Linked DNA regions of Homo sapiens. The protein of the gene in region 2 purifies or fractionates together with the protein of the main gene of each other region. This does not show direct contact. Each region holds a gene or a part of one and is shown on either strand. Other genes may lie near its edges.

Region 1 (7,048 bases), on a different chromosome or scaffold from region 2:
CTTTGGTTTCTTCCTTCCCTAAACTAGGTCCTAGTAATTTTGGGGAAGAAAGGAGACAGCAAGGAATGCATGTGCACGTGTGGGTATGATTGTCAGTGAGTGAGGAGCTGAAGCTGGGGGCTGGGGGGTGGGATGGGGAAAATGCCTGGGGGCTGAGGGAGGACCCTGCTTGGTGTCCCAGGGCTCCTGGGGAAGCTCCTAGCCCCACCTGTTCTGCTTCCACCCCCAGGCCCATGAGAGGCTGGAGGAGACGAAGCTGGAGGCCGTGAGAGACAACAACCTGGAGCTGGTGCAGGAGATCCTGCGGGACCTGGCGCAGCTGGCTGAGCAGAGCAGCACAGCCGCCGAGCTGGCCCACATCCTCCAGGAGCCCCACTTCCAGGTTCCTGGCTGCTAGGGCTGGGGTGAGGGAGCAGGAGGTGGGTGGACTGGGGCATGCTGCTGTTGGATGGGCCAGCAGGAAGTTGGATCTGGGATGGGAAGAGACCCGGGACACTGCCCCATTGTCCCTTCTCTTCCCACCACCCCCCAGTCCCTCCTGGAGACGCACGACTCTGTGGCCTCAAAGACCTATGAGACACCACCCCCCAGCCCTGGCCTGGACCCTACATTCAGCAACCAGCCTGTACCTCCCGATGCTGTGCGCATGGTGGGCATCCGCAAGACAGCCGGAGAACATCTGGTGAGGACTGGGCAGGGCCAGAGGTGGTGCTGGTGAGGGTGGGGGGATTGAGAATAACCAATGAACGGACAAAAAAGGCCAAGTGTGGTCTGAAGATGAAGATGGGGCCAGCTTTGTGCAGGGAAGGATTGATGCAGCAAAGGGTCGGGGGAAGACCCAGGAGACCATAGACACTGCACACACACCTGTGTCCGCACCTCTCCAGTCTGCCCACCTCTCCCCTCATTAGTACCTGCTGTAAGTGAAGAATTTAGGCAGAAGGATGGAGGAGGACTTTGTGAGGGTGGGGGTGGGTGGGTAGGGACAGGAATGGAGGAGCTATTAGGAGACTATTTGAAGATTCTGACTTGGAGCAATTGGGGCCTCATCTTACACTCCCTCTGACCTCCAGGGTGTAACGTTCCGCGTGGAGGGCGGCGAGCTGGTGATCGCGCGCATTCTGCATGGGGGCATGGTGGCTCAACAAGGCCTGCTGCATGTGGGTGACATCATCAAGGAGGTGAACGGGCAGCCAGTGGGCAGTGACCCCCGCGCACTGCAGGAGCTCCTGCGCAATGCCAGTGGCAGTGTCATCCTCAAGATCCTGCCCAGCTACCAGGAGCCCCATCTGCCCCGCCAGGTGGGCCCCTCACCCAGCACAAGGCCCAAGGGATGGCTGAGCCTCCTGGCTGTCAAGGTTGCAGGTCTCACGGAGGCCCTCCTCTCCTACTGGTTTCCTCCAGGGAAGATGGGGGTGGGACCTGCAGCCCAGGGGCAGCTGACCGCAGCCGCCGACAGGCCTCTGCCGCTGCTGCACCTGCACATGCTCCCACATTGGCTGGTATTATGCACGCAGCCACAGCCTGGGGTACAAGTGTATGAGAGAGCGCCTGCATTATGGTCAGCGTTCTTCACGTTTGTGCGCGTGCGCAGGGTGGGGTTGTCATATGTCCTGGATAGCTGTCTCCTGGTTGGTCAATTCTGGGGGTGTGGCTGCTCTGTCTCCCTATCCTATTGGGTCTCTCGCCCTCCACCAGAGCCCTTCTCCAAGGGGAGAGGGTGAGTGGAGGGAGGGATCCAGGATTAGGTGCCAGGGTCCTGTGCCCTACTTGGTGGTCCCGCATCCTTGGTCCTGAGATCTGAATCCTGTAGTACTAGATGCAAAGGGAGGTTGGCACCAGGGAGGAGCATGGGCAGGCCTGGAGGCATCACTCCTGCAGGGGGACAGTTCCATTGCCCCTTAGTCTCTGTGAAAAGAGGGGGCATGGGGTAGACCTCCACCTGCAGCCTTCTGCTGACCCTTCCCCCGACCCTTTGCTGATTCCTGGGCCCAGGTATTTGTGAAATGTCACTTTGACTATGACCCGGCCCGAGACAGCCTCATCCCCTGCAAGGAAGCAGGCCTGCGCTTCAACGCCGGGGACTTGCTCCAGATCGTAAACCAGGATGATGCCAACTGGTGGCAGGTGAGCTGCGGGCACCCCCGCATCTCTCCAGGTATGGTGCATGGGAGGGCGAGGGCACAGGGAGGGGTCCTCTTGCTCAGGCAGATCTTGGTCTCATGTCCGTTTTAGGCATGCCATGTCGAAGGGGGCAGTGCTGGGCTCATTCCCAGCCAGCTGCTGGAGGAGAAGCGGAAAGCATTTGTCAAGAGGGACCTGGAGCTGACACCAAACTCAGGTAGGAGGTCCCCCCTACCCCACACCTCCAATCTGGGATCCAACAGGGCCCTGTCTGCCTCACTCACCCATCTCCCTATGGCCAGGGACCCTATGCGGCAGCCTTTCAGGAAAGAAAAAGAAGCGAATGATGTATTTGACCACCAAGAATGCAGGTGGGTATCAGAGCGCCCCCTCCCTTACCCTCCTCTAACATGGCATGCCTTTCCCTGTCCCCACCCATCACCTGTGACGACGTGTGCCTGGCTCAGATGCTGCCAGCCGTGTCCCTAGGCCCTGCCCGACTCCCCCCTGCTCCCCTGTTCCAAGCCCTCTTGCCCTCAGCCTCCCTGAGAGCTCCGCCCCTCCCTCACCGTGCAGCCTGGTGAGCAGCGCCATCTCCCTGTGTCCAGAGTTTGACCGTCATGAGCTGCTCATTTATGAGGAGGTGGCCCGCATGCCCCCGTTCCGCCGGAAAACCCTGGTACTGATTGGGGCTCAGGGCGTGGGACGGCGCAGCCTGAAGAACAAGCTCATCATGTGGGATCCAGATCGCTATGGCACCACGGTGCCCTGTGAGTGGGAGCTGGGCCCTGCTGAGTTGGGGACAAGGAGCAGGGCTCCCCTGGGGCCAGGGCTGGGCCCACCGAATGGGCATCTTCATGGGCACCAGGCCAGGTGGTACCTTTGGGTACACGGGTTGGGGTGCACGCCCTCTGTGGGTGGTTAGGGGAACTTCAGGCTCAGGAAGGGTGAGGGAGGTGTCCAGCCAACAGGTGGCCTAGCGGGCTGGGCTGGCGTCCACTTTCCTTCTCTTGTTTCACTTGCTAAAAGCCATGAAGAAAGTGAGTGCCCAGCTGTGCACCCGGGTGAAACAGGCTACGAGCTGCATGTGTGTAGCCTTGTGGAAGACAGGGCTTCTTAGTGGCAGAAACAGCGGGGGTGGTGGAAGCTCCTGGCTGCCAGAGGCAGGACTAAGAGCACTGCCCTGGTCTGCTTGGCTCTTGCTGTGTGGCTTTGGGCTGTACATTGCCCTTTCTGGACCTCAGCCTCTCTTCTGTGGGCTCTGGGCTGGACCATGATTACCAGCTCATGTCTCTGTGTGTGCCAATGGGGAGAGTGGGGGGCAGGTGTGTGCAAAGGCAGCAGTGCTGGCAAGATGGGGAGCAGACTGCACCTCCAAGGCTGGGAAACGGGGGCCTGGGTAGGGGTGCATATATGTGTCTGAGGCACTGTAACCTGCCCCTGCCCATTTGGTCCAACCTACCCCCATCCCCCTAGACACCTCCCGGCGGCCGAAAGACTCAGAGCGGGAAGGTCAGGGTTACAGCTTTGTGTCCCGTGGGGAGATGGAGGCTGACGTCCGTGCTGGGCGCTACCTGGAGCATGGCGAATACGAGGGCAACCTGTATGGCACACGTATTGACTCCATCCGGGGCGTGGTCGCTGCTGGGAAGGTGTGCGTGCTGGATGTCAACCCCCAGGTACCGCCACTCTGCTCCTTCCCAGCCTGCCCAATGTCCTCTCTGCTGCCTCATTGCTCCCCCATATAGTTCCAGACACCTGTCACCTGAACACGCCCATGTACCCCCTTTGCCCTCAACTACTGCTAGAAACCCAGCCCACCTGGAACCTTTCTCAGCCTTCCAGAGTCCCCACTCCTCCTCTAGTCTCCTCCAGTCACCCCAGCCACCTGCCAGCTGTTTGTCATTTGTCCCAGGACTCATGTCCCAGACCCCCGGGCACCCTTTTCTCATCCACTCCCAAGTGCTCACCCCAACCCCAGTTACCCTCACAGCCTTTCTCTGGTTCCTAGGACAGACATGGGGATATACTCCCTACCTTGCCTTCTCCTTCTGCAGGCGGTGAAGGTGCTACGAACGGCCGAGTTTGTCCCTTACGTGGTGTTCATCGAGGCCCCAGACTTCGAGACCCTGCGGGCCATGAACAGGGCTGCGCTGGAGAGTGGAATATCCACCAAGCAGCTCACGGTGAGGGCTCTGAGGTGTGGGGGAGGGGTCTGATAGCTGCCTAGGGTGGTGGGGGACAGGCCTGAGCTGACAGAGAGAAGGAGGTGGTGTTGGGGAGGGACAGGGGCCTGCTCCAGTTATCAGTGAGGCAGGACGTGGTCCCCCCTGCATAGATGTGGAAGGGGAGGTCTGAGAGAGGAAGTCCAAAGTCTCAGAGTGAGCCAGGCACACACCTAGCCTGGGATACATGTGCTTCTGACTCAAGGCCCCCGGCTCAGCCCACTCTGCAGAGACAGAGTGCTGGCCAGAGAGAGTTCCCGAGGGCAACTGGGAGAGGTGGGCTGGAGGTGGGCCAGGTGAGCTTGGGTTGCTTACAGCTGGGGGAAAGCTGAAGGGTAGGAGAAAGCCAGAGGCGGGAAGGCTGGCTGGAGGGCTGAGTCAGCGTCAGGGAGCAGGCAGCGCCTGGAGGAGAGGCTTCAAGGCCTCATTGCAGAACTCCAGCCCCATCCTCCTTCCTATGTCTTGCTGCGCCTTCCCAGGAGGTGGAGGGTTTGCGGCGCTCTGAGCGCAGGGGTCCCTCTGCTGGCCATGCCTGGTGCTGCAGCATTCCGGCCCCAGGTCAGAGCGTGCCTGGGGCCCAGGAGAGGCTGTCTAGGCTGGCACCCTTCTGCCAATGACCCCCTTAAGGAGCTCTGGACCTTTGCCTGATCCCCATTCTGGGCACCTCCTCCTTGGCAACAGGTGTGGCCAACTGGAGCTGTTGGGATGCAGCTAGCTTCAGCTTATTTAAGTCAGTTGTCAAGTACCCTTCCTCACCCCTGCCCATCCAGCTTCCACTGGGTCGAGGGTGGGGTTGCCCTGGGTACTTGTGGATTGCCCTGGTACCAGCCTGTCTAGCTGCATAGGTAAGGCAGCCTAGTCAGACTTGAGGGAGCACTGGCTTGAGAGTCAGGCAGACCCTGTTTAGCCACTGACTGGCTATGTGACCTTTTTATACCTTCATTTTCTCTGCTATAAATGGGAAAGAATTAATCCTATCTTGCAGAGCTGTAGTGAAGATTATGTGGCATGCAAAGCATTTAGGGGTGTGATTGGCAGTTATTAAAGCTTATTTCCTCCCTTTCACTCACCATCTGTGGTTGATGGTGAGCCACTTTGAGGCACGCAGAGAGGGGCCCCTGCCTCCCTAGCCAGGGAGTCCACACCAGGGTTGGGCTTTGGGGAGGGGGAGTGGGGGCAGCTGTAGCTCCTTCTGACAGTGGGGGTGAGTTGTGGGCACTGACTGTAGGGAGGTCCCCTTGTGCCTGGGCAGGAGGCGGACCTGAGACGGACAGTGGAGGAGAGCAGCCGCATCCAGCGGGGCTACGGGCACTACTTTGACCTCTGCCTGGTCAATAGCAACCTGGAGAGGACCTTCCGCGAGCTCCAGACAGCCATGGAGAAGCTACGGACAGAGCCCCAGTGGGTGCCTGTCAGCTGGGTGTACTGAGCCTGTTCACCTGGTCTTTGGCTCACTCTGTGTTGAAACCCAGAACCTGAATCCATCCCCCTCCTGACCTGTGACCCCCTGCCACAATCCTTAGCCCCCATATCTGGCTGTCCTTGGGTAACAGCTCCCAGCAGGCCCTAAGTCTGGCTTCAGCACAGAGGCGTGCACTGCCAGGGAGGTGGGCATTCATGGGGTACCTTGTGCCCAGGTGCTGCCCACTCCTGATGCCCATTGGTCACCAGATATCTCTGAGGGCCAAGCTATGCCCAGGAATGTGTCAGAGTCACCTCCATAATGGTCAGTACAGAGAAGAGAAAAGCTGCTTTGGGACCACATGGTCAGTAGGCACACTGCCCCCTGCCACCCCTCCCCAGTCACCAGTTCTCCTCTGGACTGGCCACACCCACCCCATTCCTGGACTCCTCCCACCTCTCACCCCTGTGTCGGAGGAACAGGCCTTGGGCTGTTTCCGTGTGACCAGGGGAATGTGTGGCCCGCTGGCAGCCAGGCAGGCCCGGGTGGTGGTGCCAGCCTGGTGCCATCTTGAAGGCTGGAGGAGTCAGAGTGAGAGCTAGTGGCCACAGCTGCAGAGCACTGCAGCTCCCAGCTCCTTTGGAAAGGGACAGGGTCGCAGGGCAGATGCTGCTCGGTCCTTCCCTCATCCACAGCTTCTCACTGCCGAAGTTTCTCCAGATTTCTCCAATGTGTCCTGACAGGTCAGCCCTGCTCCCCACAGGGCCAGGCTGGCAGGGGCCAGTGGGCTCAGCCCAGGTAGGGGCAGGATGGAGGGCTGAGCCCTGTGACAACCTGCTGTTACCAACTGAAGAGCCCCAAGCTCTCCATGGCCCACAGCAGGCACAGGTCTGAGCTCTATGTCCTTGACCTTGGTCCATTTGGTTTTCTGTCTAGCCAGGTCCAGGTAGCCCACTTGCATCAGGGCTGCTGGGTTGGAGGGGCTAAGGAGGAGTGCAGAGGGGACCTTGGGAGCCTGGGCTTGAAGGACAGTTGCCCTCCAGGAGGTTCCTCACACACAACTCCAGAGGCGCCATTTACACTGTAGTCTGTACAACCTGTGGTTCCACGTGCATGTTCGGCACCTGTCTGTGCCTCTGGCACCAGGTTGTGTGTATGTGTGTGCGTGTGCACGTGCGTGTGTGTGTGTGTGTGTCAGGTTTAATTTGGGGAGGAAGCAAAGGGTTTTGTTTTGGAGGTCACTCTTTGGGGCCCCTTTCTGGGGGTTCCCCATCAGCCCTCATTTCTTATAATACCC
Region 2 (3,224 bases):
TGATTCTGATTAATAGGCACCTTCCTCCAAGCAGCGATTCAGGGTCAGGACTCCTTTCACCTGTGGCTCTGCCATGTTCAACACGTGGCCCTCATGGTCTCTGTGAGGTCTGTATCACACCAGCAGAAGGATGACAGAGCATGGAGGAGCATGCAGGAGTTTTGGGGGACCAGGCCTCGGAGTGGCACACACATCTGCACGGTCCAGCGGCCAGAGCCCAGTCACATGCCCCACCTAATTGCAAGGGTGGCTGCATGACATCCAGCTGTGTGCCCAGGAGGAAGAAGAGCTGGTTTGTGGTCTGCCAGCCAGTTTGGGCCACAGACCCCACAGATGTCTGCCACTGGCTTCCCAGAGCTTCCTCCCAGGCCCCTCCCTCCTGTTCCACCCACTCCAGCCTTGGCCTCCCTGACTCCATCCTCCCATCCTGTCCTGAGATCCACTGCCCTGCAGCTTCATCTGGCACAGGCCAAGACCCAAGAAAAGATCAGGCCCGAGGGTCAGAGAGGCACACAGAACCAGTTTATTTCTCATGAATTTATAGGACCACAGTCAGCACAGAGCAAATGGTACAAGTGCAGATGGCTGGGGTGAGGGCGGGGGCCTCTGCTGCTGCCTTCTCTTCTCTCCAGCTGCCTGAGTACTGGCACACAGCGGGCAGTGAATCTGAGGAGCTGTGGCCTCACAGTCGCTGCAGGCTGAGCCAGAAAGGAGGGCCAGGGGAGGTAAGACTCACTCCTGCAGGAGCGGGTTGGTGATGAAGGGCTGGGGGAACTCGGGTCTCTCTGGGATGAAGTCACCCCTCCTTCCTGGCCGGTCCCCAGCCCCTCCCCACCTGGCCAGCTAGCTGGGTTCCTGCAGCAGCGGAATAGTCAGGGAGTTCCCAGCAGAAGTGCTGAATGAGGGAAAGGGAATGCCGCCAAAGGAAACCGACTCTGTCAGGGCATCTGCACAGCCCGCGAGACTCAAATGAGACCCATTGAGACCCAGGTCCCCCTTCCCTTCCCTGGCAGTTCTGATTCTGCTCCCACTGCCTGGGATTCCACCAAGAAGGCTAAAGCTGCTCTTTCTCTTTATTTGTGAAAAGCAAGCCATCTTGGGGCAGGAAAGCAGTGAAGGGACTGGGCAGGCAGGACAGAAGGCGCTGGAAGCTCAGCCATCTCACCCCCGCCTTGGCCTGCACTCACCTGAAGAAGCAGGACAGACAGAAGAGCCCCATCCTCTCCCACCTCCATACCTTTCCAGCTCATCCCACCTCTGCCACCAAAACACTCATCGCGGGGTCAGAGGGAGTGCCAAAAAAGGTAAAAAGAAACGCAAGAAAGAGGCTACTGGGGATGAGGGGACACCCAGAAGCCCCTTCCTGGAGGAAAAGCCACTCCTTCTGCAGCTGGACTCTAGGATACTGAGACCCAGCCCTGCCCCATCACCTCTCCAGTGTGGCCAAGGGGACAAGGACCAAGATGCAGGGAAGCTTGGGGAGCCTGGGCTACAACAGATACAGGCCAACAGACAGACACAGATGGATGGGGGCTGCCGGGCGGGGTCGCCTCTTACTCGCCATCCCAGCCTCGACTCATGGCCTGCACTACGGCCCCGTAGAGTTGGCTCCAGGCAGCCCGTGTGGCTGGTGTGAAGGCAGGGCCCAGACACTTCTCCAGCATGTAGAGCAGAGACTCACCCACTGTCTGCAGAGGCAAGGGGCACCTTGTCACTTCCAAAGGCAGAAAGGCACTGCTCCATTCCACAGGTGAGAAAACTGAGGCCTAGGACTGATTAGGGCTCCTGGGCCTTTTTTCCTCTCCTGCATTGAGTCCATGCTTCCTGAGCAGGGTCCTACCCAAATCCTTGGGTATCACATTGTGTCTACCTTTCCCTCTAAATGTGAGGCTTTATATCCTCACATTTTTCACCCCTGTCTTGGTCTTGCAACCACCCCATGAGTGGGGCCAAGACATTGCCTGGGACCTCCCAGCTTAGACCAAACCAAGTCATTGCTCCCAGACTTGAGTTTCCTCATCTGCAAGGCAGCAATGATGGGGTTAAGAGCCTGGGCTCTGGAGCCAGATAGACCTGAGTACAGATTCTGACTCCACCCTTCATCAGCTGGGTGACCTTGGGTAAGTTATGTAACCTCTCTGAGCCTCAGCTGCTTCATCAGTGATACAGGGAAAGTAGAAGCTCCAACTCCTGGGCCTGTTGGGATGATTAAATGGGATAATCCAGAAAAAGCTCTTAGCACAGCATCTGTATACAGGAAACCTACAATGATAATAGGCCAGGTGCAGTAGCTCACGCCTATAATCCCAGCACTTTAGGAGGCTGAGGTGGGCAGACCACTTGAGCCCAGGAGTTTGAGACCAGCCTGGTAAACATGGGAAAACTCCATCTCTACCAAAAATACAAAAATTAGCTGGGCATGGTGGTGCATGCCTGTAGTCCCAGCTATGAGGGAGGCTGAGGTGGGAGGATCACTTGAGCCTGGGAGGTTGAGGCTGCAGTGAGCTGTGATCACATCACTGTACTCCAGCCTAGGCGACAGAGCAAGATTCTGTCCCCAGAATAAATAAGTAAGTAAATAAATAAATAAAGATAATGGCTCTCATTTGCCATTATTACTCATAATAAAATAAGGTTTATTTATCTCACAAATATTAACTGAATATCCACTGTAGCCCTGGTAGATCAGGCACTATGCTGGTGCTGGGGATGGAGAGGAGGACAAGACCAACACAGCTCCTTCCTCAAGGTGCTCACCATCTGGCAAGGTGACTGGACTGTGTGGTGTACTGTCATATCAGTCGCCCCCAGTGGGCTACACCTCAAGGATTCATGCCCTTGAGTAGGGTCCTCCCACATTGACACTGGGCTTATCCATGTGAGTGGCTTTGGCCAATGGGACATTAGCAAAAGTGATGCAAGCAGAGGCTTTATAGGCACTTTCACACTGGGGCTTGTCCTCTAAAAACTCCCCCTTGGAACTCAGCTGCTATTCTATAAAGAAGCTCAGCTAGACTAGTGAATGACAACAAATCACAGGGACAGAGCTCAAAGGCTGACAGGCCTTGGACATTCTAGCCTCAGTTGAGCTCCCAGCTAAACATAACACACAAGTAACTCCAGCTACACCATGTGGAGCAGAAGAGCTGCCCAGCTGAGCCCAGCCATGAGAAATCGGAAAGCATTGTCATAGTTCTAGGGTTGTTTGATACATAGCAATAGAA

The links. Proteins that work in one complex are often made in the same cells at the same time.
Region 1: the proteins of NGB (region 2) and MPP2 purify together in Homo sapiens (affinity purification with mass spectrometry; 2 studies listed by BioGRID and IntAct, with this or other methods). This does not show direct contact.

The regions. Positions count from the first base shown.
Region 1 is NC_000017.11:43,876,537-43,883,584, reverse strand, and holds part of MPP2 (MAGUK p55 subfamily member 2), read left to right. Parts: intron 1-229; coding exon 230-382; intron 383-532; coding exon 533-682; intron 683-1,073; coding exon 1,074-1,301; intron 1,302-1,995; coding exon 1,996-2,127; intron 2,128-2,235; coding exon 2,236-2,341; intron 2,342-2,426; coding exon 2,427-2,495; intron 2,496-2,700; coding exon of another isoform or gene 2,701-2,732; coding exon 2,733-2,894; intron 2,895-3,600; coding exon 3,601-3,803; intron 3,804-4,181; coding exon 4,182-4,310; intron 4,311-5,601; coding exon 5,602-5,778; 3' UTR 5,779-7,048. UniProt on the Homo sapiens protein: Postsynaptic MAGUK scaffold protein that links CADM1 cell adhesion molecules to core components of the postsynaptic density. In CA1 pyramidal neurons, required for synaptic KCNN2-containing channel function and long-term potentiation expression.
Region 2 is NC_000014.9:77,264,983-77,268,206, forward strand, and holds the end of NGB (neuroglobin), read right to left. Parts: intron 1,689-3,224; coding exon 1,554-1,688; 3' UTR 501-1,553; downstream 1-500. UniProt on the Homo sapiens protein: Monomeric globin with a bis-histidyl six-coordinate heme-iron atom through which it can bind dioxygen, carbon monoxide and nitric oxide.